Linked DNA regions of Homo sapiens: regions 1, 2 and 4 are each linked to region 3. Evidence: fine-mapped QTL for protein levels in blood plasma. A gene starts in region 3. Each other region holds a variant in brackets. All regions are shown on one strand. Distances are between the middles of the regions.

Region 1 (8,112 bases), 390 kb after region 3:
TTTTCCTTGATGTTTTGGTATCCTTCACTTTCTATCAGGCTCCACTTTTTTTTCCCTTTCAACTGTCTATTGTATATTTAAAAGGCTTCCTAAACACTGCTTCCTCTGTTTATATTTTTTTCTTAAAAAGCTTCAAAGACTCCCGATTGTTAACATGATAAAATTAAAATTCCTTAGCCTGGTGGTTGAGACTCAAACAATTTCACTTCAAATATATCACTTTAAGCATTGATTATTTCTTTGTGGTGCCGCTGCTCTAATCTTATCTTCTATTTATATCCTTCACATACTCAATGTCCCAGCCCAACTGATTCAGTTGCTATTCTCTAACTAAATTAGCCTCCTACACATCCCCCTCTCTGCTTTTGCTGATTGGAATAACTGAGGTTCTTCTCACATCCAACTCTATCCAAAATCTTACTGCTTTTCCAGGCCCAACTCAAATTCTAAACATTATTTTGTGTATCGGCTGACTGTACAGCCACAGACATAGGTTAAAGGTCCTCTTACTGGGGCCCTGTCCCAAGGGGACCCCTAGTCGTTAGACCTGCCCAAATCACCCCCTGGTGAAGGTAATAGCTCCAAACCAGTGAAACACAAACTGAAATCTGAGGATAATTTTTGCACTTATGTAGTAAGAAATTTTGTAATGAAAATATAAAGTCGAGTTAGACAACATATCGGTTGGACCTTACTCTAAGATCATGGTTTTTGAAAGGATGCGAATAAACTGTGAGTTACTTGATACATAAAGACTCGTATAGCCTTTATAGTTATTTTCATGGATAGAGCAGCCTCTAAAATAATTTAAAAACTTGTTTGGGACTGCAGTAATATGTACTGATCTCTTTAACTATATAATCTCCCCATTTTATATACTTTCTTAGGCCTGTGCATCTCCTGTATCAGAGTTACAGAATTATTATTAGATAACAAGTGTGTATATGTTGCTGTCTGAGTTTTCTAGTCTATAAGCCCCATGAGGGTTGTAGGTTTTTCTGATGTGTTCACCTAGTATAGTGCCTGGTAAATCATGGAGACTTACATACTCATTGAATTACTGACACCACCCATAGTAGGAGATCACGTAGCTGTTGAATAAAGACCTGCCACCCACAAAGGTTTCATTCATACTTCTCAGTATTAGAAATAAAATTCGTGCTCCTGTTCCACTTCAAAATCTGTTTCTATCTTACTATGCAATTAAAGGCAACTCTCTTCTCTTACTGGGGACTCAGTTTCCCCATTTGGGCCAACTAGGAAGGCTTTCAGCAATTATAACTCCTACGATAAAAGTAAATATGACTTATGTTAACCTCACCTTTTTTAGTCCTTCACTTTTCTTCAAATAGTGCAATTCAAGCCTTCATGAGTGATCCTGGCAATTTTTGAACAAATGTCATCATTGAAGTGCAGGCTAATTGTCCACAACGTGCTCCTCTAATAATGAAAACACTACCAACAACAGAGTGCAATGTCATTGCAATGTTAAATCATTCACTTGAAAAATGACTGCGTTTTGAGGCCTGCAGAAGATAATTCAATGAATCTGAATTTGCAGTGATATAGAAATAACTTTTCATTATTTCTTATTAGCTTATTTTTTTGTTTTCATTCATATAAAAATTAGGAGAGATAGATCTTCAATGACTCCCCATTGTTTATGGAAAAAAGCATGGGCTTCTTATCCTGGTATCAAGAAATGCCGAAATTTGTTTGATAGTTTTAATAATTACCTTGATGAATCACACTGGCACACAAGCTTTGGCCCCGGGGTGATAATCAGATATGGTTCCTAATTACTGAGAGCTAAGATCAGGAATTTTAAACTATTTAGAATTTTTGCAGTGTGCCTGAGGTAAATAGTATTTATACTCTTTTTACAGATTAGAAAACAGACTCATAGAATAAGAACAATATAAACAAGGTCATAGGAAGTGCCTGAGCTAGAATTCAGACTTTGCTGTGTCTGACTTCAAAACCTATATTCCTTTCACTCAGGCAAAGGCATTTGACTCCAAAATTACATCATTTAAATACAAATCAGAGTCCGTACCTCATTAGCATGGGGGCATATTTCAGTCTCTCGAATCCAGAATATGTTGGCAGACACTCACATCTTAGTTCACATGTACAAATTGGCTCCATAGCAATCATATCTCCAGAAGCTGTACAAGAAAGAATCTTCTTGTAGATTTAAAAGCTCAGCTTGCTGTCATCATACTCTCTTCTTCCTAGTTGACTGGTGTTAATTTTGCCTACAGTAAAGAAAGATGTAGTGGGGTCACATGTGAAAACCCTCATTACTACTCTAACAATTTACTGCCATCCCATATATATTGGTGAATCAACACAGGATACACTAGATAAATGTATATTATTTAGGAATTTAGCCATGCAACCATAGGCCCTGAAGAAATGGGATAAACCCATTTAAGAAGCAGGATAACTTGACTGAACTGGAGGACGTATCCAGTGGCCTTATGGGCCCCTATCCTTCAGGTACCATTCTTGTATTTTATATAAGGATATTGCTGCTCTAAGTTCATTTATGATGAAAGCCCAACTCTCTATCTCCGCAGTCCAGTTTATCAAAGTGAATTCAATGATAGCAGAGCTGACTTCTCTCTGCAACAGAATGAGAGGAAAGGCCTTGAATTACTCTTAAGTGAAAGTTTTAGACCTGGAATATGTATATTTTTAAAAAATCCATGTGCAAGTTTTATAACATTTTAAAAAATACTTTCAGTTTTTACGTGAATCGTGGCATATATGTATTCAGAACCTTTAAGGGAAAGGGTCCACTGCTTTCATCAGATACTCAATGGAATCTTTGGACTCCTCCCTCCAAAATGAAAACCACTGTCTTAAAATTAATGTAGAGCCAACACTTCCTTGACTTCCTGACTTTTATTCTTCTCTTATCAACTCCAATGAATGATAGGCAGCGTGGTGGCCAAATAACTATATGGCTATCCATATGGGTGGAGGGAGGTATTAGTGGAGTCCTAGTAAGAAATATGCAGTTCAAAATAGCTTCTCTGGTTAAGAAATCACATAGAAATGTGTAAACAAGGAACCGATAAAGTGTTTTGAGTATACACCTTAGGCGCCTAGTGAGTTTTGCAGGACACCAGATGAAGAATTAATAAATCTTGATTTTGTCAGGATACTCTCACAAATAGTGGACTATCAGTAGGGAAAGAAATTTCCCCAAGAGGAATAAACCCTCTGAAGATTTAACTCTCTTTCCTGTAGCACTGTAATCTCATCCAAATGTTTGAAGACCCCTCCTCTATAGCATGCTGGGCATTTTTCTAAACATAGCAAAATAGACTTTACTATTTGCAGAACGTTAGACCCTAAAGAGAAGAGGAAAAATAAAGATGTTTTCATCGTGTAGTTTTCCTTTGTCTTAGCAGTAATATTTGTAAAGCATATTCATGTGATAAATGGATACAGTGAGTGAATGAGGATGCATGACTTCCTGTAATTATATAAATGTACCAAGAGAATAAAGTTAACTCCAGTCTAATCTTTAATACTAGTGTGTATGCTCAAACTCATATCACAAAGTTCTTAGCAGTCTTATGTCTTATTGTGCTATTACTAGTTTACATTTCATTTTATACTATAATAAGCTTCATTCAAATCCTAGTCTGTCAAATGGATCTTCGCATTTATAATTCTACTTACCATCTCATCTCTCTAGCTCAGAAGTTGGTTTTGTGCAGGACACTATACCGCTGTATTCTCATAGATGACACCCAGAATGGCCCAGAATGTGAAATGCTCAATTCAAATTCATTAGCTTGCTTTTATCTATCTATGTGCTTACACATATAATTTATAAAATACACTTAGTTTAATAACATCTATAGTAAATTCACTCGTGACAATTTTACTGACCTCCCTGACCCCATATGAAAGAAAACAGGATTTCCCTAAAAAATCCTTCTTATAAATCAGACCACACCAAAAAGGTCAAAGCAAATAAACAGGTGGAAAACAGTTCTCAAATATTTGTAATAATTTTTTTTCTGATTATAAAGTACTTGTATGATCACTGCACATAATTTTTAAAATATAGATATTTATACACACAGACATGCACACACACACACACACACACCATACATGTGCATATGTCTACATGAGTAAAGTAATCCGTATCACTATAATGGTTGTATTAGTCCATTTTCACATCATTATAAAGAACTTCCCTGAGACTGGGTACTTTATAAAGGAAAGAGGTTTAATTGACTCACAGTTCTGAATGGCTGGGGAGGCCTCAGGAAACTTACAATCATAGTGGAAGGCAAAGGGGAAACAAGGCAGCAGGAGAGAGAAGAGTGAGGGGTGAAGGGGGAAGAGTCACTTTTAAAACGATCAGATTTCATGAGACTTACTCACTATCACAAGAATATCATGGGGAAAACTGCCCCCATGATCCAATCGCCTCCCATCATGTCCCTCCCTTGGCACGTGGGGATTATGTTATATAAAGTCACTGGAAACAGTCAGTTAGCAAATACCAAGTCATTGCTCCTAGGGAAATTACAGAATTAGTATCCTGCAAGCATGTGGCCACAGTATTTCCATCCATTGATCAATACATAGCATCGTTTTATGTGTGTTTATGTTTAAAGATACCTTATTTAGTGCATATTTCTTCCAAATAACAAATTATATGCAGGAATTCTTTATAATGAAACAATAGTTGAGAAGAGTTTCAGCTATTCTTGACCCAGGTTAATATAACAATAAATTGCTGTGTACTATACATTTTTTAAAAATCAGACATCATCTCATAAATCCACAAATTTAGTCACTTTTTCAGTTTCATCACACATGGAAAATATTACTTAAACTGTTTTGGACATCTCCTATGGCAACACTCTCACTGACACACCCAGGGTCAATGGAAATGCAAAAGAAATGGAACTAAATAGACCACACACACACACACACACATGACACACTATTTTTGGTGTAACAGCTGAAACAAGCCAGTAGAGCATTGCATTGTTGGACCTCAACTGGAAACATATATATCAGGAAAATCAAAATTTTTCCCACTCTGCATTTGTCTGAAAATAAATGCTGAAGTATTGAAGTCATTAAAAATAAACTTTAGCTAGTATGTAAACTGTCAAACTCAGAGACTTCAAGTAATGAGAAACAGTTGTCCCTTTTAAAAACAACAAGTGAATGATAATAAAAAATGCAAGATGGTACTGTGGAGACAGGGAAGCATTTGGATGGCCTAGGGATAGAATATATAGATACTTTGAAGACATTTATAAGTATCCATGTCTTTAAAATTAATTTTTATTTAAGTAGCTTTTGGGGTACAAGTGGTTTTTTGTTTCATGGATGAATTCTATAGTGGTGAATTAGGAAAATTTTGTGCACCAATCACCCTAGTAGTGTACATTATACCTAATGTGTACTTTTTAAAAAATCCGTAGCCCCTCTCCCACTCTCCCACTTCTGAGTCTCTAAAGTCCATTATATCACTCTATATGCCTTTGCCTACTCATAGCTTAGCTCCTGCTTAAAAGTGAGAACATGTGTTTATTTTGTTTTCCATCCCTGTGTTACTTCGCTGAGAAGAGTGGCATACAGCTCCATCCAAGTTGCTGCAAACACATTATTTTGTTCCTTTTTATGGCTGAATAGCATTCCATGGTATACCATGGAATAGTATTTTCTTTGTCTACTCATTAGTCGGTGGGCATTTAGGTTGCTTCCACATCTTTGTAATTGAGAATTTTGCTGCTATAAACATAAATGCACAGGTGTCTTTTTCACATAATGACTTATTTTCCTTTGGGTAGGTACCAGGTAGTGGGATTGCTCAATCAAATGGTGTGGTGATTAATACCAAGTGTCAACTTGATTGGATTGAAGGATACAAGGTATTGATCCTGGGTGTGTCAATGAGAGTGTTGCCATAGGAGATTAACATTTGAGTCAGTGGGCTGGGAAAGGCAAACCCACCCTTAATCTGGGTGGGCACCATCTAATCAGCTACCAACATGGTTAGAATATAAAGCAGGCAGAAAAATGTGAAAAGAGAGACTGGCCTAGCCTCCCAGCTTACATCTTTCTCCCATGCTGGGTGCTTCCTGCCCTCGAACTTCCGACTCCAAGTTCTTCAGTTTTGGAACTTGGACTGGCTCTCCTTTTTTTAGCCTGCAGAGGGCTTATTGTGAGACATTGTGATCCTGTGAGTTAATACTTAATAAACTCCATTAGTTCTGTCCTTCCAGAGAGCCCTGAGTAATACAAATGGTAAATCTACTTTT[C/T]GCTCTTTAAGGGATCTACATACTGTTTTGCATAGAAGTTGTACAAATTTGCATTCAAACAAGCAGTGTATAAGCATTCCATTTTTCCCACATCCGAGCCAACATCTAGTGTTTTATGAATTTTTAATAGTGCCCATTCTTGTAGGAGTAAGGTGGTGTCTCCTTGTGGTTTCAATTTGCATTTTCCCAATGATTTGTAATGTTGAGCATTTTTTCATATGTTTGTTGGCCATTTGTATATCTCCTTTAGGGAAATGTCTATTCATGTCCCTTGCCCACTATTGGATAGGGTTATTTGTTTTTGTCTTGATGATTTGTTTGAGTTTCTTGTAGATTCTGGATTCTAGTCTTCTTTCAGATGTACAGTTTGTAAATATTTTCTCTCATTCTTTGGGAGTCTGTTGACTCTGCTGATTATTTCTTTTGCTGTGTAGAAACTTTTTAGTTTAATTAAGTCCCATTTATTTATTTTTGTTTTTGTTGCAGTTGCTTTTGGGGCCTTAGTCATGAATTATTTGCCTAGGCCAATGTTCCAAAGAGTTTATCCAAGGTTTTCTTCTAGAATGTTTATGATTTTTGATCTTAGATTTAAGTCTGATTAATCTAGTTGATTTTTGTATAACGTGAGAGATGAGGATCCACTTTCATTCTCCTACATGTGGCTTGCCAATTATCACAGCACCATTTGTTGAATAGGGTGTCCTTTCCCCACTTTATGTTTTTGCATGGTTTGTCAAATATCAGTTGGCTGTAAGTATTTGGCTTCATTTCAGGGTTCTCTATTCTGTTCCATTGGTCTATGTGCCTTTTTTAAAAACAAATACCATGCTATTTTGGTGACTATAGCCTTAGAGTATAGTTTGAAGTCAGGTAATGTGATGCCTCCAGATTTGTTCTTTTTGCTTAGTCTTGCCTTGGCAGACCAATAGCAAGTTAGTCAGCATGGTGCAGGAAGGGGTGATAGCTATCACACAGCCATTTTCTCCTTCCTGGGTGCAGTGTTATTCTACCAGGAGATGCTGTAATGGACTGTATTGGTTGGCCTCCAGCCAGAAAGTAGCACTTGCAAAGGAGCACCAGCTGTGGTAGTAGCAGTGGGATTTTTACTTGTCTTCTGTTGCCCAGGGATGATACTCTGGTTTCTCAGGCATCGGGTGGGACCGTGTAGCTCCCAAGAGATTCTGTCCTTTTCGTTAAGCCACCAGGGTGAGTGAAGGGGCAAAGCCAGGTAGGGGCTGGGTCAGGCAGGTTTGCACTCTTGGCTTCATGTGCAGGACAAGTAGCAGCCTCTGTCAGCGTCGAGGGATGGGAATGTGCCTCAGACCACTGGTTATAGTCCACTGGGGAGCGTTGCTGTCTCTGCTGCACAGAAGTGTTTGTGCAGGGAGTGAGGAGTAGCAGGTGGTAAGCCCCACACCATTCCCAATGCCCTTGCTAAGGCAGATTCACTCCTACAGTGTTTCACTAACAGCAGCGAGTTGAATTCCAGCCAGCCTGTAATCAGAACTCGCAACTCCCTGGAGCCATAGGCTTTCCCCATGGAGACAGCAGCCTTGGTCTTCAGACCACTCCCCTCCCCACCCACTGCAAAGCCAAGCACTAGGCTATTGCACCTGTGGTTCCTGCACTCACGACACCTGCATTCACAGCCCACTTTTCACTCTCCCTTACCTTGGCCCTGGCTGAAGGAGTTCGTCCCCACCCATGGTTATATCAGGAAACCCCATCTGGGGGCGTCTTTCAACTTGTGACCACTGCCTGAAGATTTTGGCTGTCCTATGCTGGGTTACCTGTGAAGAGC
Region 2 (8,112 bases), 400 kb after region 3:
CAGGACCATACAAATTAAATAGTGAAATACAATTGTCCGTAGCCATACTGCATAGGTGTAAATATCGGTGACACCCATTGTGGTTTCAAGATATGGATAATGGATTTTCATGGGAATCTAAAATTATTGATGCTATTATAAAAAATCAGTAGAGAAAGTAAAGTTTATTCAGTAATTGATATTAAGAACATTGTCAATTTAGGATACATTAAATTTACATTGTCATAGCACATCAATATAAATTCTTATATAGCATTCTGACATAAGAATTTAATAAATAGAAAAAAGATAAAGAAATGGTTTTCAAATCTATGGAGTATTTTCACATATTAATGTGACAGGCAAAAATCGCTAAAAATTAAAAGGTATAGCTTTAACGAATTAAAATAATTAAAAAGTAAAAGCAAACAATAAGAAAACTATTTGTACCATATATAAATATATAATAATATTCAGTCTCCGTTAGGAATAAATTAACAGAAAGGAACAATAACTGGTTAACAAACCAATGGGAAAAATCACATCATTACTAATCAAAAAATACAAACGAAAGTAACAGTTGAATAGCAATTTTAACTTTCAAAGTTCTAATAATTACTACCAATAATGGCAGTAAAAGCTGGTGACAGAACATGGGTAGTAGAGTGTAAATTTTTATAGACCTTTCAGAAAATAACTTGATACTACATTATTGTTAAAAATGTCCATATTTGCTGGAATAGCTGTGGAGAGTCAAGAAATCACTTGCAGCTCAGCTGGAGGAATGCAATTAGCTGACACTCACTAGATACAGTACCTTCATTATTTGTTGCAACATTTCCTCCAAAGCCATGCTCTTCCCTGGCAGCTGACTGAGCATGGTAGGGCTACCAAAGCTTAGGCATTTCTGCAGAACATGGGACACTTAATGTACAATAACCAGAGCTCCTTTCTTTTGGGCTAGTGAAGACTTTCTCCAAGCTTCATGACAGTTTGAGAATCTTTCATAATAATTACTTTTCTTTTCCTCTCTTTCACAAGTGTCTTATGTACATTGTGATCTGGATCTCTCCCTGCCTACTTCTGTGCCCTCTATGATTTCACAAGTATTTTTCTCAATAAATCTCTTGCATTTCTAACTCCTTCTTGGCATACGCTTTCCACAAGACCTGAAGTTGCAAATCCATTCGTTTTAATTCTATGTATTTATACTAAGAAAGTATTCCCAAATATGGAACAAAACTTTAAACGTAAATATCTTCATTACAGAAATATTATATTCAAGAATATGAGGAAAAAATCCAAGTTTTTAACAACTGGAAAATAGCTAAGATAAATTTCAGAATATTTTGTAGCTATTAAATTAATTCATATAGAATATTTAAAACTATAAGGAATGCATGTTATGTGAAAAATACAGTAAATAAAATTACACACATGCTATTACCACAATTGTCTGAACAATTAAAAAAATATAATTAAAGCAAAATTACGTTGAAAACAGCTAGACACAATATAAGTTATGGCATTTCAGCAGCTCTTAATAGCAATTAACAAAATGTTAATACATTTTAGGTATTTATTGATAAATTCTATTTTAAATATAGTCAACAATAATATCTTTCTATAGCCAACACTAAGAAGTCCAGTGTCTGAATTTAGGAGAGATGAATATGCTATTGTTCCTGTGAATAAATATCACATATAGATGTTAAAAATCTATCTCTGAACCACTTTTGCTACTTCTATTCAACATAGTACTAGAAGTCCCAGCCACAGCAATTAAACAAAAATGGCACCAAAATAGAAAAGAAAGAAGTTAAATTGTCTCTGTTGCAGATATCATAATCTTAT[G/A]TGTAGAAAACCCTAAAGACTCTACCTAAAACTGTTAGAACTAGGAAATTAATTCACTAAAGTTTCAGGATACAAAATCACAATACAAAAGTAAGTTGTGTTTTTATACACGAACAATGAACTATGAAAACTGTTAAAAATATAATTCCATTTACAATAGCATGAAAATAATAGAATAATTAGGAATAAATTTGATCAATGGTGTGAAAGATCTGTACACTGAAAACTGTACAACATTAGTGAAAGAAATTGAAGATGATACAAATAAATGGAAAGACACCCCATGTTCATAGGTTGGAAGACTTAATATTATTAAAATATCCACACAACTCAAAGAGATCTACAGATTCAGTGCAATCCCTACCAAAATTCCAGTGGTATTTTCCATAGAAATAGAAAAAAAATCCCAAAATTCATATGCAACCACAAGGGACCCCAAATAGCTAAAGCAATCTTTAGAAAGGAAAACTAAAATGGAGGCATCACATGTCCTTATTTCAAACTATATTACAAAGCCATAATAATCAAAACAGTGTGGCACTGGTATAAAAACTAACACATAGATCAATGGAACACAATATAACCCCCATAAATAAATCCATACATATATAGTCAACCAATCTTTGATAGGAGTGCCAAGAATACACAATGGAGAAAGGATGGTTTTTTCAATAAACTGTATTAGAAAATGAGACCTACCCGTGGAGAAGAATTAAATCAGACCCTCCTCCTAAACCATATAAAAAATTAACTCAAATTTGATTAAAGACCTAAATGTAAGATCTGAAACCTTAAAACTCCTAGAAGAAAACATAGGGATAAAGCTCCTTGAACACTGGTCTTGACAATAAATTTTTGGAAGATACCAAAAGCATAGGAAACCAAAGCAAAAATAAACAAGTAGGGCTACATTAAACTAAAATGATTCTGCACAGAAAAGGAAAAAAATCAACGTAATGAAAAGGCAGCCCAAGAAATGAGGGAACATATTTGACTTCTCTACTTTATCTACCCCTGACCTGCTCCTCAAACAGCCACCACTCCTTTCTATGACATGTGCTTTTATCCAGGATAAATAAAAGAAATGGCTTTAAAAATATTATATCTGCATATTACACAGTAAAAATTATCCATAACCCTACACATTATTATCTCTCCCTTTTCTTTCTATAGCCTCCAAACTTTCATCTGATATTTATCCTAAGACATGTGTTCTGTATGTGTATTATTAAAATGGAATATTTTCTCTCTGTTCCTCTTTGGAAGTAGCTAGATTTAAATGATGAGACAAAACAAACACTTTAGAGCTATTTAAAATACTTAATGCATATCACCTAGCTCTACAAATTCCTGGTGAACTCATATCACAGAGAGATTAAACTCACCCAGTGCATGATCATTTTCCTTTGAGGAATTCCCCCTTTGATTTCAAGCTATTATTATCTCTTATGGTTTGCTATCTGAATGAAAAGAAAGTATTTCCACACCAAGGGGTTCACTGCACTTTCAATAATTGCACACTCAAACCCCTAAATCAAGAAGTTTTAAATTCTGACCTTTGTGGGCATGTATATTGATTGGATTTATAAGTTGTCCTTGAATAGCTCACAATCTGAAAGCTATTTGTCTATGTGCCTAATTTTAAACCAGACTCATTGTATTAGTCTGTTCTCAGGCTGCTAATAGAGACATAACTGAGACTGGGCAATTTATAAAGGAAAGAGGTTTAATGGACTCACAGTTCCACATGGCTAGGGAGGCCTCACAATTATGGTGGAAGGCAAAAGAGAGGCAAAGGAATGTCTTACATAGTGGCAGGCAAGAGAGCTCCCCTTTATAAAACCATCAGAGCTCATGAGACTGTTTTTCACTATCATGAAAACAGTATGGGGAAAACAGCCCATATGATTGAATTATCTCCACTTGGCCCCACCCTTGACAGGTGGAGATTATTACAATTCAAAGTGAGATTCTCATGGGTGGGGACACAACCAAACCATATCACTCACTATAAGAACAAAGAAAATTTCCATTAAATCTGAAGACTTTCCAGTTATACTGCACTATTTTTTTCAGGTTTCCTGTTCCTGAAAAAGTGGCCATGTAGAACAATTTAAGAGAATGTATGAATGCTTTTTGGCTAGCAGTTCCATTTTTCTCTCTCTGCATGATATAGGAAAGGGGGGCAAATATGCTGGAGCTTGACAAATTTCTTGGAACCTGATAGTAAAACCTCTGTATCAACATGTCAAAAGGCAGAATAAACTTTTATGTTATACCAAATCCCCACTACTAAGAGATTAATTTGATTCTGAAAGTCAACAAAGCACAATATCTGACTTCTTTTCTTGTTTGTATAGAATGTTCATTTTTACATTAACTAGGCAATTCAACAGGGCCACTTTTCAATATTTTCAATAACTTTAATACAGAGCTCTAAATTTTAACAATTTCTACCTTAGGAGGGTCAATTTATTTGTACAAATATTGGTCCACTAACAGTATAAATGGAAAAATATGCAAATCATACTGTAGTTAGTCTAATAAGTAATTTGATTCTCAAAAACTATAAAGTTATTAAAATTTTCTTTGTGATAAGAATCTGTTTCTCTATTTCCATTGGCTGAAACACAATAAAACACTGAATTAAATCAATGATTCTCCATGATTTTCCATTTACCATAATTTTTTCAGTGATGACAGCCTAGTAAAAGATCTCTCTAGGCTTGCACTCCCTACCACCTCCCTACTATCCATCCATAATAAGGCTATTTTGAATAAGCCAAGTTTGTTTTATTATATGACTTTTATTTGAGACAGGCTCTGTCATCCAGGCTGGAGTACAGTCATACAATCATGGCTCACCACAGCCTCCACCTCCCGGGCTCAAGTGATTTTCCTATCTTAGCCTCCCAAGTAGCTGGGACTATAGGTACATGCCACCATACCAGGCTTTTAAAAAATTATTTTATTTTTGTAGAGATGGTGTCTGACTGTGTTGACCAGGTTGGTTTTTAATTCCTGGGCTCAAGGAATCCTTCCCACCTCAACCTCCCCAAGTGTTGAGATTGCAGACATGAGCCACTGCACCAAGCATGACTGTTTTTAATTGATGAGCTGAGAACACACACATTTTCTGTTTTGTATTACTTTGAGGAATACTTCACTAGAGGCATAAGTGAATGACGATATGGGTAAGAAGGAACAATAGCATTATCAGGCATAATAGCTGGTTGAATGTATGTCGTTTTTGCTGGCTTAAGGTAATCTATATGGTAAAATAAAATAAAGAATCACTTCAACTTTACATTTAAAACTTTTTCTACTTTATTTTTACCTACAAAACATGCCAAAACATGCTTGGATTAGTGTCTTTCTATACTCTTACAGACCAGTCAATATTCTAGGCACTAACTAGGGAGTTAGTTATAAATAAAATATATAAGAATTGTACTTGTGAATCTTAAATTGCAATGGAAGATGTAGAAAGTGAAAGATAAAAATTAGTAAGTATATATAGTATAATACACAATAAGTGATCAGAAAAAAGTGGAAAAATGGGATATGAATGAGTAGTTGCATTTTAGTTAGGTTGGCCATGAACAGCCTTTCTGAAAAACTGAAATTTGAGTAAAGACTTGAAAGAAGTGAGGTATGGAGTCTTGTATACATTTAAGGGAGGAACATTTCATGCAAAGGAAACAGTGCACAAAAATTGAGGCAAAATTACAGTAATTTCCAGGAATAACAAGCGGGCAGTATGTCTGTGGCAAGGTGAATGAGAGGTAGAGTAGCAGTTAAAGTCAGTAAGAAAATGAGGGAGCAGTAAGTTAAGTTGGGCCTTCATGGACAATGTATGGATTTGTATTATATTCTGAGTAAGAGCAGAAGCTATTACAAAATTTTGAGCAGGGTAATGATGCAGGTTGTTATATTGATAATAGACTGAAAGAGACTATTGAAAAAGTTTCTGAAATGAGTTAGGAGACTATTGTGATAATCTAGGTGAGAAGAGATGACTTTTTTGGAATCAAGCCGTAAGAATAGAGGTGGTGAAAAGTGGTAGGATTACCTGATGACTACACTTCACTTGGGATGTGATCAACCCTCTGTAAGGAACTGAGATTACCTAGTAAGTTTCGTTTGAAGAACTCTAGTAATGTTTACTAAATGTGACTCTAGTTGGAGAGTATAGCTATTTGTATACTATTTATTAAGGAATATTCCTTCATCATGTGGGAAAGCTGTCCTCTTTGATAACATGGCTTCAAAAGGGATGCGCATAAAATAGTGCTCACTAGGGTAACATGAGTAAACCAGTTCCCTGCCCAGGATTTGACCAATGCTTTGTGATGAACCAATATATGGCACTAAAATATAACAATAGTAATAATAATAATAATAATAATAATGCACCATAAATCTGGTTAATTGTAGAAGCAGAAACTTTCTATAAGTACCGAATACCTACTGGATGTTAAGTATCTTATGTCTTACAAATAGTTATATTTGATCGGTACATCAGTAAATACAATACCAGTATTGCATTTATAATGGGACTTTTAACTTTCATAATCGTTTTCACTGTCTATTGTTTTCCTTTTCAGTTGGCTACACACAACAGTTTAGAATTCATGCCAATTAGTCATGGTCCATATGGATGCCTTTATGTGCCATGTTTGTGAGCAAGTAGGGATCATGCATGATATACCTCAGTGTCACTGCAAGTCATGTAATGCTAAATATTATCTGCCATGAAGGCAATGGTTTCTTCTTGGTCGGGAAATGTTTGGATGGATTCTTTATTCTTTTCTAATTCAAAGTGCTACAGAGTAGACTACTGACACAAAATAGACTTAGTATGAAAATATGGGCTAGAGGAAGCAATAATCTATATGTTTTGAGTGTTATTTTTCATTAGGATCAAAAACACAAGTGATTTTTGGCCTGAAGGTAAATCACAGATGGACAGGGCTCAGATGGCACATGAAGATACAGAAGTGAATAAGATTCCCTAGTGAGAACTGAGAGTACATCTTGGCAAAAGATAATTTGTCTCCTATATAGTGGGGTCATTACACATAACCTTTGCCCATTCCTCCATCTGGTTTCTATGTCAAATAGCGTTAATTCAGATCTTAGTGGTCTGATTCTCAACCAATTCAAACACAGCAATTATCCCAAACATATACTAAAATGTGCATGTCCACAGTTCCATGTATACATAATTATTTGAGAGTGAATAGGTGGGATAATGCTGACTTCAGTGAAAAGAATAAATAAGTTATTGAAAAAGTCAAATCATCATAATAACAGTATTCCAAGTACAAGGATAAAAATAAATCTCACTCTTTAGAAGCCTTTACTAATATCCCTGTTTTTTTATCTTGAACATTAAACTCTTGTTATTGAAAGAATCACCAGCCTTAGGGGAAAATGCCTGGATAAGAAAGTAAAATTAGACGTGATTGAGTGCTAAGAAAAATACTGGCTGATGAATCACTTCTTAAATAAAGAATAGTTTACTTTCCTCAAAAAAGAAAGAAAAAAGCAACTAGAGCTTAATAGTGGCATAGTTTCTGTACTTTAGATTGTCTGATATTTGATATATAATACAAGTAATAATATCAAGGTAATGTTACCATTATTCCTCCTGGATTATTTAAAAATGGAAAGTGATTAACACAAAGCAATGTATTTGGTTGAATTGTTTTCAGTCTCTGCTTATCTTTGTGTTTTATTGTTGGATCAGTTTCAAATTAGGCACAGATCCACTGAACTCTCCTTGGACATAGGCTTCTTTCAAAGAGAAAAGTACCTAATTTATAGTTAGCTTTATAAGCTGATCAACCTGAAGGGGGGAAATCAGCGCAACAAGACTTCATATGTTCTAATTTGTCATTTTTAAATTCTGGACACAGTCTAATAATTGCAAACTATTATTAAGGTGATAATTAACTGACTATAAAGGATGCTTTTTCAGAAGCATCTCAGTGACCTGAGTAATTTATATTTACCCTCCTAAAACTAAGAGGCTAAGTATATGCTAGAGAAAATTGGCCTAGAGAATGCATTATTTCACAATATGCTGTGATTATACATGGGCTGACAGTCATCAGCATTTGTTGAGTTATTTTATGTAAAGCCTAATGCTACGTACTATGGGGAGATAGATGAATTAGAAAATGTACTTCATCTTCTTCAAATATTCGGTCTTGTGGAGGTTTATAATTTATATTCATGGAAAAAAATGACTTTGGGATTAGTATAAAGATAGAT
Region 3 (8,104 bases):
GCACTGCAGGCCGACCGGAGGCTTCTAGCTCGCGCCGGGTGCGTGGGCCCTCCCTGGCCGCCTGTGCCACCCCGCTGCGCGAGGCGCGGAGCCCGACCACGCCCGCGCGGACGGTCCCGGGGTGAGGAATCTCCAGTGGGGATTGAGGGTAGAGGGCGGCCGCCAGCGAGCTGCCCTCCGCGGATGGCGCCCAGCCTCCCCACGCTGGTGCCCCTCGCAAGGAGAGGTGGCCGGGAAAGGCAACGGACTGAGGAAAGCCGGCTCACTGGCCGCGTCGCCACCGCGTCCCTGAGTGCTCAGAACTTACCGAGCGAGCGCGCCGCCCAGATCTTTTCCCGGAGGCGCCCGCAGCATCTGCGACTCGGGGAGGCAAAGGAGCCGGCACCGCCTCGGACTGGCGCAGCCCAGGAGCGAGAGCACCGCGGGGAGCGCGGGCGGCGCCCCCAGGGCAGGCAGATCCCCACCGAGCAGCTAGCCAACGGGCAACGCTTCTTGCAGGAAGGAGGGAGGGAGGCGAGAGGGAGGAGGGAAGTAAAGCGGGAGGGAGGAGAGGGGAAGAAGGGAGGGAGGAGGGAGGAGGGAGGGAGGAGGGAGGAGGGAGTGAGGAGGGAGGAGGGAGGGAGGAGGGAGGGAGGGATCGCGTCCCCCCTCTCCCTCACTTATCAATCACCCCACAGATCAAATATCCGGGCTGTGCACCCAGGACGGGGATGTAAGAGCCCACAAAGGAGCCGCTGCTCCATTTCTCTGACAAGCGCTGCGGAGCACTGCTCACGCCTCTCGGTCCCTCTTGCCTGGAACTCTGCCCAGCCCTTGCGGCTTCCACCCTGGGCTGCAGCTCGGGCTCGGTCAAGTGAAATAAGAATGGCACACGGTCGGTACCATGTCCAAGGGGAGACTAAGACTACTGGGTGGAAGTTAACGACAAGTGAAAGAGCAGTCAGCCATCCGAGCTGGACACCCTCCGGGACAGCTGCCTCCCCTAACTAGTAAGCGCCCAGTCTTTGGGAGTTCGCAGGCAGATATTTAAGAACCTCCTACGAGGATCGTAAACAAGGACTTTCAACATAAGATAGAGCTGAACTTGAGTTGTGCAAGTGTGTTAACAAAGCAAGCCCTTAGCAGCGTTCCAGTGCCCATTTTGATTCCCTTTATTCTTCACGACGACGTTGCCTGGATCTTCTAGAGCGTGATTTTTGCCATCCTCCCTTCCCTTTTCTCCTTTCTTCTTCCTCTTATTAGTAGTCCAGGTGGTTGTGATTCTATTAAAGGAAGGCGCTCTGTGAAAAGAGTCAGTGTAGTTCAAGAGGGAGGTGCGGTTTTTGCCAAGAGCATTGCGTTTCCCCTCAAGACTTGCTTTCTCTAGGGCCTCTCCTCTACTCTTCCAGAGTATTCGAGATAAAGTTGCAGTTTGATAAATTTATGCCAGGAGTAGGGAGTTCATTTGATGACACTAAGTCATTTTCCCCTCCATCCTGTAGGAGAACGTCATTAATTCAAGTCGTTGCCACCCCCTATCCTTTTCATGCCCGCTAGAGTCTGCAAAACCCCAAATCCTTCTTACTGTCGAAAAGCGTGATGGTGGAGAGCAGACGGGGAGGCGAGGAGAGAGGTGCAAAATTAGACGCAAAATTACCTCTCCAGCTAGTGGATCTGCATTGGAATTTGTCTGTTTCCATATTTCCCATGCCTTTCAACTCGTTCTCACAGCACTGACAACCACCTTTTTCTTGTCCTTCCCGTGGGAATCTTTTGTGCTTCTCCTGTCCTCTCTTCTTGGCTTTCTTTCATAATGGTTTTCTAAGGAGATTATGCTGGGCTTTTTAAAAAGAAAACTACTGGCAATCTTATATTATGAAGATGTACAGAGTTTGCTTTAATAATAGTCGGAAGAATTATAATCGTATCTTCGGAGTTGTAAGGGTCATTACTGTTCCTTTTATTTCATTCTTGAGAAAGCCTTTTTGAAATCTTCCTACCATTCAGATAAGCAACTTCGGAATAACATAGTTCTCACATAAGCACGTGGGCAGTGTATGTACGGTTATATATCCAGAAGCATTGCTCTTCTTTTTACAATATCTGTATTAGTGTAAACATCCAATGTGCTGTTTGCTACAGACTAAAAGCAGTGCACTGAGCACATCATATTATTAACTAAATGAGGTCAGTTAATACTGTTACTTCTGTCTTTACCGTATTTCTGACTGTGTCATCTTTTCATGTCGCTTTTAGTAGATGTTATAAACAACTGCAAAACACAGAGCTAAGAGGCCATTCCAATACAGAAATAATGAGACAGTCATGCTGAAAAACTCAGACAGTTTACTAAGAAGGGTGATGTGTCTGTAGCCAAAGGGAACATACAAAATAAGCAAAAACTTCTATACAGAGTAGAGAAGGAACATGGCATTAATGATGAAAAGTGATACTTTATTTAGATCCAGTAGTAACATGTAATAGATGGCATGCATCAATTTTAATTAGCCTTGTAAGCAAGTCTAACCTGTTCACCAGCCTTCGAAAAGCATTTAGCAGCCTGCCTTTCCACATGGGACCACACTGATAGTAAGACAAAATTAAAAAGAGCAGACTTTTCTTTTTGTCAGCATAAAATTTTCAAGTAGGTGGATAGCTGTGCTTTGAATGCACAGACACGAAAATTGATGAGCAATATAAAACTTTCTGAGAGGGTTTTGCATAGACAGTTATAATGGAGGAGAGTTTGAAGTCTGTGAAAAATTTAAATATGCCAATTTATTTGAAAGCTGCTTTATGCTGAATTTTCTAAAAGCTTCTGTGTTAGAGGAAAATTTCCAAATAGAATTGAATACTAGAGACACCATATTAATGTACTTCTGTTCATTAATAAAAATCACATTATTCTTCTTTATACTAGCACTGTAAATGTATCTTTATATCCATGTGCTGTTTTCTTTTTGAAAAACTTTTATTTTAGGTTCAGGTGTACGTGTGCAAGTTTGTTATATAGGTAAATTGCATGTGGTGGGGGTTTGGTTTACTGTAAGCTACTTTCTATTGTGAAGTTCGTGTTACTAAACAACATAGAGATCCCGATTGGAAAACTAGTGGAAAAACAGAGAAATAAAACTAAATCTTGCCTGGGTTTTTATAATTTCATTCTAAGGTTAGAAGAAAACCAGAAATTTCACCTGCGATGAGTGAGATAAAAAGCGCATATGTTTCCAGGATGATGTAAAGGATGTCCTATTACTGTGTAGTACGTAATTTACCTGAGAATGTTGCTTTTTCAACTTCTTCACACCTATCCAGAACTAGAAAGCTTTAAAACATATAAAAGAAGACAAAATGTGCTGCATTTTCAGTGAACATAGTTTCTTTCCAACCAAAGGTTTCAAAGAAGAGTGCCACAGAACAAATTCCTAAATAAAGAAACGCAACAAAGCGGACATGCCCTTAATATTAGTAATTATAGTTTACAGGATATTGTAGACTTTTGTTCCTGATGTTATTGAAAAGGTGGATATTTTTCAATTCAATTCAATTATTTGGATTATTTGGCAGGCATTTTGGCCTGATTGAAATAGTGCTGGGCCAAGACCCAGGGCAGTTTTTCTTTTAATCAAATACATATCCAAGCCCTTGGAGCCCAATGACCTGGGTTCAAATTCCACCCGTGCTACTTTCTCACAATGGGACAAAAACAGCATTACACCAATTTCAGTTCCCCATGTGTAAAACTGGCACCTGCTATGTGGAGTCAGTAAGGATGGGATGTATACAGAACTCTTGAAAATTGAACGGTGGTACATGTATGTGCAAATAAATCTTAAACTAAAAAAATTTTTAACTCACTTCTTAAAATAAATAAGTTATACAAAATATTTTATATCTGTTTTCTATGTTTCTCATGACAATCCTCAACAGGCCAGTATGATTAGCCAGACTTTACAAAAGAGGAAAGTGAGACTCAGAAAATTTAAGTAACTTACCCTTACTCCCATTCTTGGTGAAATGGTTGATTTTAGTCAGAAACCAACATCTTAATTTAAGTTGGATAACAGAATTAGCATTAGAAAAAATATTTATGATTCTAGTTGGAGCCATGTAATGTCAAACATTTAAAATAACTTCAAAAAAATTCCATCTTTCATTTTACAGATGTTTTCAAATAGTTACATATATGTATACATCAGGGCTCAAACTCAACACTGTTGATATATTTGGTCAAATGATTATTTGTTGTGGGGGCTGCCCTATGCAATGTAGAAGGATTAGCAGCGTCACTGGCTTTTGTGTGTGTGTGTAATGTGCATATGTATACTATATATACATACGTGTAATTATATAAATGTAATAAGTAATATAACAATATATAATGAAATATTATTCTATTGTAGTCGATTTTTTAAATGCTTGGCTGTGGCCCACTAAACTGAACTCAGGAGTGACTGTAGATTGCCTCTTACAGTTTGAATAACACTGCCACGCTGGAATGGGCAGGAAAGGAAGGAAAATGGGATAGAAAGGAGAAAAGAGGCAGTAGATCAAGAGGGGAAGTACAGAAATAGAAGGAAAAGACAACTGCATGTCTTACAAAGTTATAGAAAGACTTATGGTGCCCCCATCAATTACACCAAGTGCCACTTATTAATGATACCTGTTCTCTAAGGGCTCTGGCTCTCCCTCTTTTTTGACTGAGTCCAGTGATTTATCAGTAAGAACCACATTTAAGCTTACTAGACTTGGGAGCACATATACATGGCAAAAGCCACAAATTTAACAGATAAGGCTCAGGACAGCATTAGTAGGTATTTCATCTATCCTGACACATTCTATCTTATGAATTTTGCTGCAGCTGGAAGTCATATTTTGGTTTGGAGTTACAACCTAATGTGTTCAGGAGGAAGCCAAATTTATTAGGTTTGACATTGCACTTTATTGGAATGGTATAATGCAGTTGAGCCTCTGTAATAAGTTCTGTTGATTTTATTTATGTATTTATGTTTGGCTAGTATAAATATATGGTAAAGTATGTGCTGTGGTAGAGAGTTTAATGCTGACTCTGCTGGAAAATTCAAAAATGTCTGCATAGAAGATGCCCAGTTCTAAAGAGTTACGGTCAGAGGAGCAGCTACTCAGGATTTGCACTAAGTAGTTCTGATTTTTAAAAATGTCATCATTTGTGAAGAGGACTAGTCTATTAATATGAACAAAATGGCAAGGATGACATACCCCAGATCTACCTGAAGTTGTGATTTGCACAAAATGAAGCAGAGTTTCAAAATTGTAGGTTTAGAAATGAGGCAAGTAAGATCTAGAATGTAAATAAAATCATTTCCAGTAATAACTGGATGCCGCATTCAACCATCATTGCAAATCAATGTGAGGAGAATGGATGTTTTTTACCTTGAATCCTGATGACTTATTACTCAGATGTGATATCAATTATTTTTGTCCCCTTCTATTTTTCATCTCCCAGGCAGTTTCTTAAGTGACAGTACAATGACATTTGGAATACAACCCTCTTCACCTGATTATGGTAGGTCAGGTAACCTCTTAGTCAGATGTAACGGCCCCAGGACATATATTAAGTAACTTTTGCATCTGCCTTTGGTCTCACTATATTCCTAAGCAAATTGAAAAGAAAATGAGCCTCAAGTTTTATGAGTTTTAGATTACCTAAATACACCTGAAGTTCTCTTAGAAGAATAGCCTGAAGTGTCTCTGAGGTGGAAGAATTATATGCAGCATCTTGAAAGCATCACTTTGCGGGAATCTCAGGAAACCATGCCAATATTGAAAGCATAATTATCACCAAATTTTTCTTCCACCGTGGGCATCACCACAGCAACACAAGTACAGGAGTGGGGTCAGTGTCACTTTATTAATATTTTGAAAGGAGGCAAAAGCAAGCTTATTTTTTTTTGCTACACATCGTTGCTTCAGAATAATAAATTCAGTATGCTGATCCTTTAGCTTTTCATATATAGGTCTAGTTGACCGAGGTTAGAGAATGGCACAATTAGAACTGGAAAATTTATTTGCCTTAATTTGAATATATTGAACTGTTTAATGTATTTTTCAATAAAAATACTAATATGTAGGGAGCGCTGTACATGACTGCTAAATGATGAACGCTGGTTATTATTTGCAGCATGGAAAGACAACTGTCAAATTAATGAACTGATGTTCTGGTTACAATTTTAAAAAATATAATCACTCAATTTCAGGTAACTCCTATACTTGAATATAAATAAACATTGTATAACAATTTTGACTAAACCTGGATCCCTGCTGTAAAGTTCCAGTTGCTTGGAATTCAAATGTCATATGATTTACTGAAGGTTCTGAATGGATCTGCTTTGATTTATATTGCAACATTGGGGTGTATTGAATTCCAATGAAATTGTTGATTTGTTATCTTTGCTATGGCCATTAGCCAAATTCATTCTTGAGCTGCAGTGGTGATGTAGATCACAGCTTACCTGGCTTCATCAAGTTGTGTTTCTCTATGGTTTTTAAGTATGTGGTTTGGCTAAAGTAGAGTTCAAGGACACAGATGGACCATAATACCTATATTAAATTAAACATCCAACTTCTTGATCAATTTTCAGTGTTAATATGCAAAGCACCTGTATTAGTCTGTTCTCACACTGCTAATAAAAACATACCCAAGACTGGGAAATTTATTTAAAAAAAAAAAAAAAAGAGAGGTTTAATGGACTCACAGTTCCACATGGCTGGGAGGCCTCACAATTATGGCAGAAGGTGAAAGCCATGTCTTACATGGCGGCAGACAAGAGAGAATGAGAACCAAGTGAAAGGGGAAACCCCTTATAAAATTAACAGATCTCATCATGAGACTTACTACCACGAGAACAGTATGGGGGAAACCACCCCATGATTCTATTATCTCTCACCAGGTCCCTCCCACAAAACGTGGGAATTATGGGAACTACAATTCAAGATGAGATTTGGATGGGGACACAGCCAAACCATATCAGTACCTTAAATAATTTTAAAAACCCACCTTAATAAATTACTGTAACTGATAATTCTATGTAAAAAGTCTCAAAATAATAGGGGAACAGGGCAAGTGATCTACAATTAAACTGCAGGCTTACAAAGCTTCTTTCATGCGTGTTCAATTCTTATCTTTCATTGAAATACCAAAGTAATGTAATGTTTAAGAATTTTCTACTTGCAAAATGCTGATGATTATTTTGGGTATAAAAGCACTTGATAGCCTAAGAGTTTGTGTTTTATGTATGTGCCTATCTATCAATACCTTCCTTTCCCTGTTTCCTCCCTTCCTTCCTTCTTTTCTTTCTTTTATAATTGATTTGGGAATTCCTTCATTCACAGTTAGATGTTTTATCAACAAAAAGTATAAACACTACAGGGAGCAGTTTATATTATGATAAAATGATTACTTGAAATGGGTTATCACTACATATAAGTTTCTACGATAAAGATATCATCATGTTTTTTTTTTTGTTCGACAGTCTCGCTCTGATGCCAGGCTGGAGTGCAGTGGTGCAATCTCAGCTCACTGCAACCTCTGCCTCCCGGGTTCAAGCAAATCTCCTGCCTCAGCCTCCCGAGTAGTTGGGACTACAGGCACGCACGCCACCATGCCCAGCTAATTTTTGTATTTTTAGGAGAGACGGGGTTTCACCATGTTGGCCAGGATGGTCTCAATCTCTTGACCTCATGACCTGCCTTGGCCTCCCAAAGTGCTGGGATTACAGGTGTGAGCCACCGTGCCCAGCCATAATTGTTATTTTTACTCAAATTTCCATAGGCTATTAGAATGGTAGGATGGGAAGGGGATCTAGCTTCAGCGTACCTTATTTTGTAGTTTGTGTTCATCTCCAACATCCACATCCCCTGGGCCCTTGTTAAACAGGAAGATTTCTGAGCTCCTCTAAAATCTTACCGAATAGAACTTTCTGAAGGTGAAGTCTGGGAATGGTACTTTTATAGGACTCTCAAGGGAATCTGATGTAAATGGCAAGATCCATTCTAGTCCAACATCTTCATTTTATAGATGGGGAAAATGAGGCTCAGAGAGGTGAAGTGATTTTATTCAGTCATACAGGCAGAGTCAAAAGAAAAA
Region 4 (8,112 bases), 1.2 Mb before region 3:
AGCACCAGAAATTCTGAATCCCAGCAGAAAGTTTATACAAATTTATCTTGAAAAGCAGCATTTAAATTTTAGCATAAAACTGTATTTTGAAAGAGAGAGACACAAAAATCGTCATTCACAGTTGTACACAAATGGAAAGATGCCATTCTTTGAGGCACAAATTCCCACAGTGGGGATCACATTTCAGTTACCCTAAGGTAAAGCACTTAGCCTACTGTGATCTTATGATAAAAATTCCACAATCCTGAATAAAGGCAATTCAAATGATTCCAGTTTTTAAGCTATGAGCTGTTCTTGCTTGTCACACTGTATGACGTAACAACATTTTATAAAGCTTAATGGGATGCAAACCCATTATATCACCCATTTGCAAAAGAGATAACTCCATTTATGTCACATATATTTTGTAACAAGATTTAATTAAAATAGAACAAACACAATTATGTTCTTCCAACTAGCCAGTGGAATGTTTCTGTCATGTACAAAACATGAAGAAAGTTACTAAAAGGACAAAGAAGAGATAAGAAGTAGGCTCCTCTTTCTGATCCTCTGACAGCATATACAGCTCTTTCAACAAATATTTACTAAGTACCTACTATGTGTCAATCCAGAGAGAGAGAGAGAGAGAGAGAGAGAGAGTGTGTGTGTGAGTTGTTGAAAGTACTAATACAAATCAGGCAAACTGCCTGCCTTCAATGAGAGCATTATCTGGCTTGTGAGACAGAAAAGGAGAGATAGAAAAAAATAATAGCACTAGGATAAAGAAATATATAAAAGGATAGAGAAACAGAGGATAATAATCAGCTCAGCTAAGGGAACTCAAGGAAGGATTTACAGAATGAAGAATACTTGAATTGTGCTTCCAAAATGAATAAGATTTAATTGAAAAAGACCAACAAAATCAAATTGTGAAAAAGCACAATAATATAAAAAAACAAATAAAAATGAAAGCAACATACACTCCCATTTTTCTGTGGCCTGTGCCTCCTTCCTGAATTCTAGATTATATATATATATATAGCTGTTTACTTGTCATCACCATTGGAATGTCTAATAAGTATTTCCTGATCTTTTCCCTTACCATACTCACTCCTCTGCAGTCTTCCCCATTTCATTATATGGCACTGTCATTCACCCAATTGCTCAGATGAAAACACCTTGGAATCATCCTTGACTCTTAACTCTCATCTCACATCTAATCCAACAGCAAATTATCTAAGTGCTATTTTCACAATATATCCAGCATCTGGGCACTTCTCACTATCCTTACTGCTGACTTTACCCAATCTGAATTATTCTCTTCATTCTTATTGATACTATCTTGATCCAAACCATAATTCTCCCTCCTCTAGATTACTCCCTAGAGAACTACATTCTAACTGATCTCTCTGATTTTACCTTTGTCTTTTTTTTTTTTACGGTCTGAAGCCTATTGCCTACAATCCTGTTAAAATGTTAAGTCCTTTCAGTTTTCTGTTCAATCCCCTCCTAATGCCTTTTTATACACTATAGAGTAAAAGCCAAACATATGATCGCTTACAAATCCCTGCACAATATCGTCCCCCATTCGTATCACATTTCTAATTCTCTTCCCCAAGTTAACTCTGATTCTGGTACTGTGGATTCCTCATTCTCCTAGGAACTCCTGCCTTGGGAATTTTGCACTCTTTGCTATCTCAACCTGCAAGGCATTTTCCCAAGTATCTGCATGGATCACTCCCTCAGGTCTATTGTGTCATTGCTCAAAAGTCATCATTTCAAAGACAGTTCTTCTATATAAAGTAGGGCCCACTCACCTTCACTTTATACCTTCCTTACCTTGCATCACTTTCATAGAACTTACCACTTATCTACATCTTATTACATATTATTTTTATTGGCTGTCTCCTACTCCAGACCATAAGCTAAATTAAGGTAGATAATTTTTCTCTTAAGTATTTCTGAGAGAAGAGAGAAATCCTGGTTGAATATTTTCTAAATGAATGAAAAAAATGTATATAGAGAGTAACAAAATAAAATACCTCCCTCATACCATACACACGTGTAAATCACAGTTTTATGTAAAGCTTTATAATTAAAAAATAAAAGAATATGTTTATTACAATGAAATAGTAAATAATTTCTTAAATTAGATGAAAGAGACACGAAACTTGAATGACAATATTGATAAAATTAAATGCATTTAAATAAATAATTTCCAGGATAAAAAAATATTTTAAAATAAAATAGTAGTTATGGGGGAAGAAGATATTTATAATAGATATAATGCACAAAAGTAATATCCATGATATAAAATTATTATAGCTCATTTTTTATAAAGATAAACAATGTGGTAGAAAAATGGGCCATAAATATGCAGATAAGATCCATAAGAAGAAAATATATGGCCAATGTAATCTCTGTAAGGACAGGGATATTATCCATTTTCTTGATTTTTTTTATTCCCAATACTTAATTCATTTTCTAACACTTAGCATTCGGACACAAATTCTTTGTCAAAATTTATTTAATGTAAAAAATAAAGTACATAAAAAACGTAAAAGATGCTCAACATTACTAGTAGTCAGGAAAACACAAATTAAGCAACTCAGATACAATTTCACATCCATTGTGTTTGCAGAAATTGTGTGATGACATCACATGCCAGCCAGTAGATGGATAAACAGTAATCATAAATAATAAATAATAAACATTTATTATAGGCAGAAGTGTAAACCAATCAAACCAGTCTGAATAGCAAATGGGTAGTACCTTAAAATGTTGATAATATAAATGTAAAACCTTTCTCCCCAATAAAACTACTTCTAGGTTTTAGCTGCATCAGGGAAATCCTTACATATGTTTACAAGGAGACATGTGCAAAGGCATTTATTGAAGCATTGTTATTAATAACCAAAAAGCAGAAATACCAAATGGTCTCCAAGAGGGATCATTGATAAAGAGAACAGTTTATTCATCTATCAGTTAAAAAGAGTGAAATAGACTTAAATATATCTAAATTCTTCAATTTCAAAGCGTAATGAGGGATAGAAGCATCTTCTCAAAGTGTAATTAGAGGTCCTCTCCTTTCCTGATAATTCATGAATCTAAAAAGAAAAGAAAGTGTCACTTCTCCCAAAGAAAATCACTATAACAAGCAAAGCAAAACAAAACAAAACAAAATTCTTACAACAACAAAGCTATGAAATTATAACATTTATTGAATACATCAATGATGAAGCAATGACAAAAGAAATCAGAGATAGGACATGAACACTGGCTCACCCACTGGCAGAATAAAGAAACATCAAGTGTATACAAGTAGGAAAGAAGAAGTCAGTTAAAGATTGTAACACATTGCTAAAAGAAGAGTGTAGGCTAGTGTGCAGGTACAGAACTCCTGTGAGCCTCGGACACAAAAGGGCTGCTACCACAGACAGGATCTTCTCCACCAACTTCCACCTGGTTGTTAAAGATTGGGAAAAAAAAGCAGGAGATTGAAGAAAGCTTTTCTTGGTGGTACAAGCCTGAAAGAATATAGATGCCATTGTTGTGTAAAAAGTATGAAGCTCCTCTCTAATCCTTATGCCCTACAGAAAAACATATCATCTGTAAATATCCTTGGTAGGGGCAGTAAGTCTAATTCTTCCAAGGGCAGGAGTGAAGAATCACTGTAGCTGGGAAAGGTTAAAAAAAAGATTTAAAAAAATCTCTCTGTCCCTAGAAGACTACCAGAAATCAGTCATGAGCCTAGACAAGTATGTTCTGCTGCAGTGATGGGGCAAGAAGCCCTTGGCTCTACAAGAGTCACCAAAGATAAAAGGTATAGTTTGAGGTGGAAAGACAGTGGAAGAGAAAGACCACAGAGAATGACAAATGCCTGTGAAAGAATGGGGCTTTGCCATCTAAAAGAGATTCTCCCGGACTTCACTACCTAACTTACAAGCACAAAATTACAAGAAACAACAGTTTACTGCTGGGTAAGGGGTAAGACAATGGAAAGAGACCTCCTCCATGGTGCAGATGTAGAGGGAACACTGAAACCTGAGGATGAAGTAAGAACATTAAGACAGCTCTCTTTTTTAAGCACAAAATAATTCTACTGTACCAAAAGAAAAAAGAGACAAGAATTACAGCAAAGTTTTCTCAGAAATTATGTAAGCTAGAAGACAATGCAGCAATACCTTTAATGTACTGAACAAAAATAAA[C/T]GGCCAATCCAAAAGTCTATATTCAGTGACAATAATTTTCAAACATGTGGTCGCATGATTTCTGACAAACTAAAGCTAAAGGTATCATTGCCAGCAGAGCTGAACCAGAATACCCCTTTTAAAAAGTGTTTCAGGCTGAAAAAATATAATACTATTCAGAAACATGAATCCACACAAAAAATTGAAGATATCCAAAAATGGCTAAAATAAAAGTAGATATAGAAGATTTTGGTTTTTTAACTTCTAATTTATAATGACTCTAAAAGAAAATTGACTTTCTAAAGCACAAAGTAGTATCAATTATGTTGTAGGTTTATAACATATATCTGAGCAAAATGTGTGACAACAATAGTAAAAGAGAAGAGATAGAAATTGAAATGATAATGAAGTTTTTACACATTACATGAAGTGATGCTGTATTATTTGAAGGTAGATGGTGATCAATTAGAGATGCACATTGCAAAGCTTAAGGCAACCACTAAATTTTTAAAGATACACAGTTATTAAATAAGTGTTTATAGTTATTTTAATTAATACAATGCAATTAACAATGTTGTATAAGTGTATGACTTAAAAATTAATAATCCATGAGAACTTCCCAACCTTGTTAGACAGGTCAACATTCAAATTCAGGAAATGCAGAGAACCCCATAAGATACTTTGTGAGAAGATCATCCACAAGACACATAATCAACAGATTCTCCAAGGTTGAAACGAAAGAAAAAATGTTAAGGGTGGCCATAAGGAAAGGCCAGGTAACCTACAAAGGGCATCAGACTAACAACAGACCTCTCAGCAGAAATCCTGCAAGCCAGAAGAGATTGGGGACTAATATTTAACATTCTTTAAAAAAAAAAAAAAGCAATTCCAACCCAGAGTTTCATATCTGGCCAAACTAAGCTTCATAAGGGGAGGAGAAATAAGATCTTTTTCAGACAAGCAAATGCTGAGAAAAGTTGTTACCTCTAGACTTGCCTTACAAGAGCTCCTGAAGTAAGCACTAAATATTGAAAGAAAAAAAAACACTACCAGCCACCACAAAAAGACATTTTATTACACAGAATAGTGACACTGTGAAGCAATCCCATAAACAAGTCAACAAAATAACCAGCTAGCATCATGACGACAGGATCAAATCCACACATATCAATACTAACTTTAAATGTAACTGGGCTGAATGCGCCAATTAAAAGACACACAGAGTGACAAGCTGGATAAAGAACCAAGACACACTGGTACACTCTCTGCACGAGACCCATCTCACATGCAATGACATACATAGGCTCAACATAAAGGGATGGAGGAAAATGTACCAAGCAAAGGGAAAACAGAAAAAAGCAGGGATTGCAATCCTAGTTTGTCACAAAACAGACTTTAAACCAACAAGGAAAAAGAAGACAAAGGAGGACAGTACATAATGGTAAAGGGATCAATTCAACAAGAAGAGCTAACTATCCTAAATATATATGCACCGCACACAGGAGCACCCGGATTCATAAAGAAAGTTTCTAGAGACTTTCAAAGTCACTGAGACCCCCAAACAATAATAGTGGGAGACTTTAACACTCCACTGACAATATTAGACAGATCACTGAGACATAAAATTAACAAAGATATTCAGGACCTGAACTCAGCTCTAAATTAAATGGTCCTGATAGATATCTACAGAACTCTCCACCCCAAAACATCAGAATATACATTCTTTTCATCACCACATGGCACTTTTACTCTAAAATTGGTCACATAATCAGAAGTAAAACACTACTCAGAAAATGCAAAAGAACTGAAATCCTAACAGTCTCTTGGACCCCAGCACAATCAAATTAGAACTTAAGACTAAGAAATTCACTCAAAAACATACGATTACATGGAAATTGAATAATGACTGAATGACTTGTGGGTTTATAATAAAACTAAGGCAGAAATCAAGAGGTTATTTAAAACTAATGAGAACAAAGATACAACATACCAGAATCTCTGAGACATACCTAAGGCAGTGTTAAGTGGGAAATTTATAGCACTAAATGCCCACATCAAAAAGCCTGAAAGATGTCAAGTTAACAATCTAACATCACAACTAAAAGAACTAGAGAACCAAGGCAAACAAATCCCAAAGCTGGCAGAAGACCAAAAAATTACAAAAATCAGAGCTGACCTGGAGATAGAGATCCAAAAAAACATTCAAAAGATCAATGAATCCAGGAGTTGGTTTTTCAAAAAGCTAATAAAATAGAGAGACCACAAGCTAGACTAATAAAAAAGAAAAGAGAGAAGGTTTAAATAAGCACAATCAGAAATAATAAGGGGGATATTACCGCTGACCTCACAGTAATACAAACAATTATCAGAGAATATTATAAACACCTCTACGCACATAAACTAACAAAATCTAAAAGACATGTATAAATTTCTGGACACATACATCCTCCCAAGACTGAACCAGGGAGCAATGGAAACTCTGCACAGACTAACCAGCTCTGAAATTGAGGTCATAATAAATAGCCTAAAAAAAAAAAAAAAAAAAAAAAAGAAAAAAACCAGGGCCAGAAGGATTCACAGCTGAATTCTACAAGAGGTGCAAAGAAGAACAGGTACCATTTCTACTGAAACTATTTCAAAACACTGAAAAGAAGGGACTCCTCCCTAACTCATTCTGAGGCCAGCATCATCCTGATATCAAAACCTGACAGAGATACAACAAAAGAAGAAAACTTCAGGCCAATATCCTTGATGGACATTGGTGCAAAAATTCTCAACAAAATACTGGAAAACTGAATCTGGCAGCACATCAAAAAGCTAATCCACCACAATCAAACAGCCTTCATTCATGGGATGCAAAGTTGGCTCTACACACACAAATCAATAAATGTGATTCATCACATAAACAGAATTAAAGATGAAAACTACCTGATTATCTCAATAAACGTAGAAAAGGCTTTTGATAAAATTTAACATCTCTTCATATTAAACACTCTCAACAAGCTAGATATTAAAGGAACATACCTCAAAATAATAAGAGCCATTTATGACGAACCCACAGCCAACATCACACTGAATGAAAAAAAGCTGGAAGCATTCCCCTTGAAAACCAGCGCAAGACAAGGATGCCCACTCTCACCACTTCCATTCAAATGGTATTAGAAGTCCTAGCCAGAGGAATCAGGCAAGATAGAGAAATAAAGGCATCCAAACAGGAAGAGAGGAAGTCAAACTACCTCTGTTTGCAGATGACATGGTTCTATGTCTACAAAACACCATAGTATCGGCCCCAAAGCTTCTTACAGCTGATAAACAACTTCAGCAAGGTTTCAGGGTACAAAATTAATGTACAAAAACTGCTAGCATTCCTATACATCACCAACAACAAAACAGAGAGCCAAATCAGAAAGGTAATCCCATTCACAATTGCCACAAAGAGAATAAAATACCTAGGAATACAGCTAACAAAGGAGGTGAAAGAGCTCTACAATGAGAATACAAAACACTGCTCAAATATATCAGAGAAGACACAAAGAAATGGAAAAAAAATCTCATGCTCATGAATAGAAAGAATCCATAACATTAAAATGGTTACACTGCTCAAAGCCATTTACAGATTCAATAGTATTCCTATCACACTACCAATGACATTCTTCACAGAACTAGAAAAAAAAATAATTTTATTTGGAACCTAAAAAGAGCCGGAATAGCCAACGCTATCCTTAGCAAAAAGAAGAAAGCTGGAAGAGTCACATTACCCTACTTCAAACTATACTATAAGGCTAAAGTGACCAAAACAGCATGGTGCTGGTACAAAAATAGGCACATAGGCCAATGGAACAGAATAGAGGGCCCAGAAATAAGGCTTCTTATCTATGACCATCTGATCTTTGACAAAGCTGACAAAAACAAGCAGTAGGGGAAAGACATCCTATTCAATAAATG

Which allele goes with the higher level. Positions count from the first base shown, and alleles are read on the strand shown. Strength reflects both the effect of a copy and how common the allele is.
For the plasma level of the protein whose gene starts at base 505 in region 3, C is the low allele of the variant in region 1 and T is the other (weak association).
With allele A in place of G in region 2, the plasma level of the protein whose gene starts at base 505 in region 3 is higher (weak association).
For the plasma level of the protein whose gene starts at base 505 in region 3, allele T in region 4 goes with a higher level than allele C (moderate association).

What was found. A credible set is the group of variants that fine-mapping cannot tell apart. PIP is the chance, under the fine-mapping model, that this variant and not a neighbour inherited with it causes the effect. Protein levels are from antibody-based Olink assays in UK Biobank. Linkage for the fine-mapping came from a reference panel and not from the study's own genotypes, which makes the PIPs less certain.
Region 1: its variant is the best candidate, but not a certain one, in a credible set for the plasma level of the SLITRK2 protein (UK Biobank, PIP 0.81).
Region 2: its variant is the best candidate, but not a certain one, in a credible set for the plasma level of the SLITRK2 protein (UK Biobank, PIP 0.67).
Region 4: its variant is the best candidate, but not a certain one, in a credible set for the plasma level of the SLITRK2 protein (UK Biobank, PIP 0.85).

What each region holds. Positions count from the first base shown.
Region 1 is chrX:145,423,044-145,431,155 of GRCh38, reverse strand. No RefSeq gene overlaps it. Among named protein-coding and RNA genes, the nearest start is that of SPANXN1, 180 kb to the right of the region's middle. The variant C/T (reference allele first, on the strand shown) is at 6,312.
Region 2 is chrX:145,414,107-145,422,218 of GRCh38, reverse strand. No RefSeq gene overlaps it. Among named protein-coding and RNA genes, the nearest start is that of SPANXN1, 170 kb to the right of the region's middle. The variant G/A (reference allele first, on the strand shown) is at 1,834.
Region 3 is chrX:145,810,230-145,818,333 of GRCh38, reverse strand. SLITRK2 (SLIT and NTRK like family member 2) reads right to left here and starts at 505. Exons shown (of 5, transcript NM_032539.5): 1 at 308-505.
Region 4 is chrX:146,978,687-146,986,798 of GRCh38, reverse strand. No RefSeq gene overlaps it. Among named protein-coding and RNA genes, the nearest start is that of CXorf51A, 170 kb to the right of the region's middle. The variant C/T (reference allele first, on the strand shown) is at 4,189.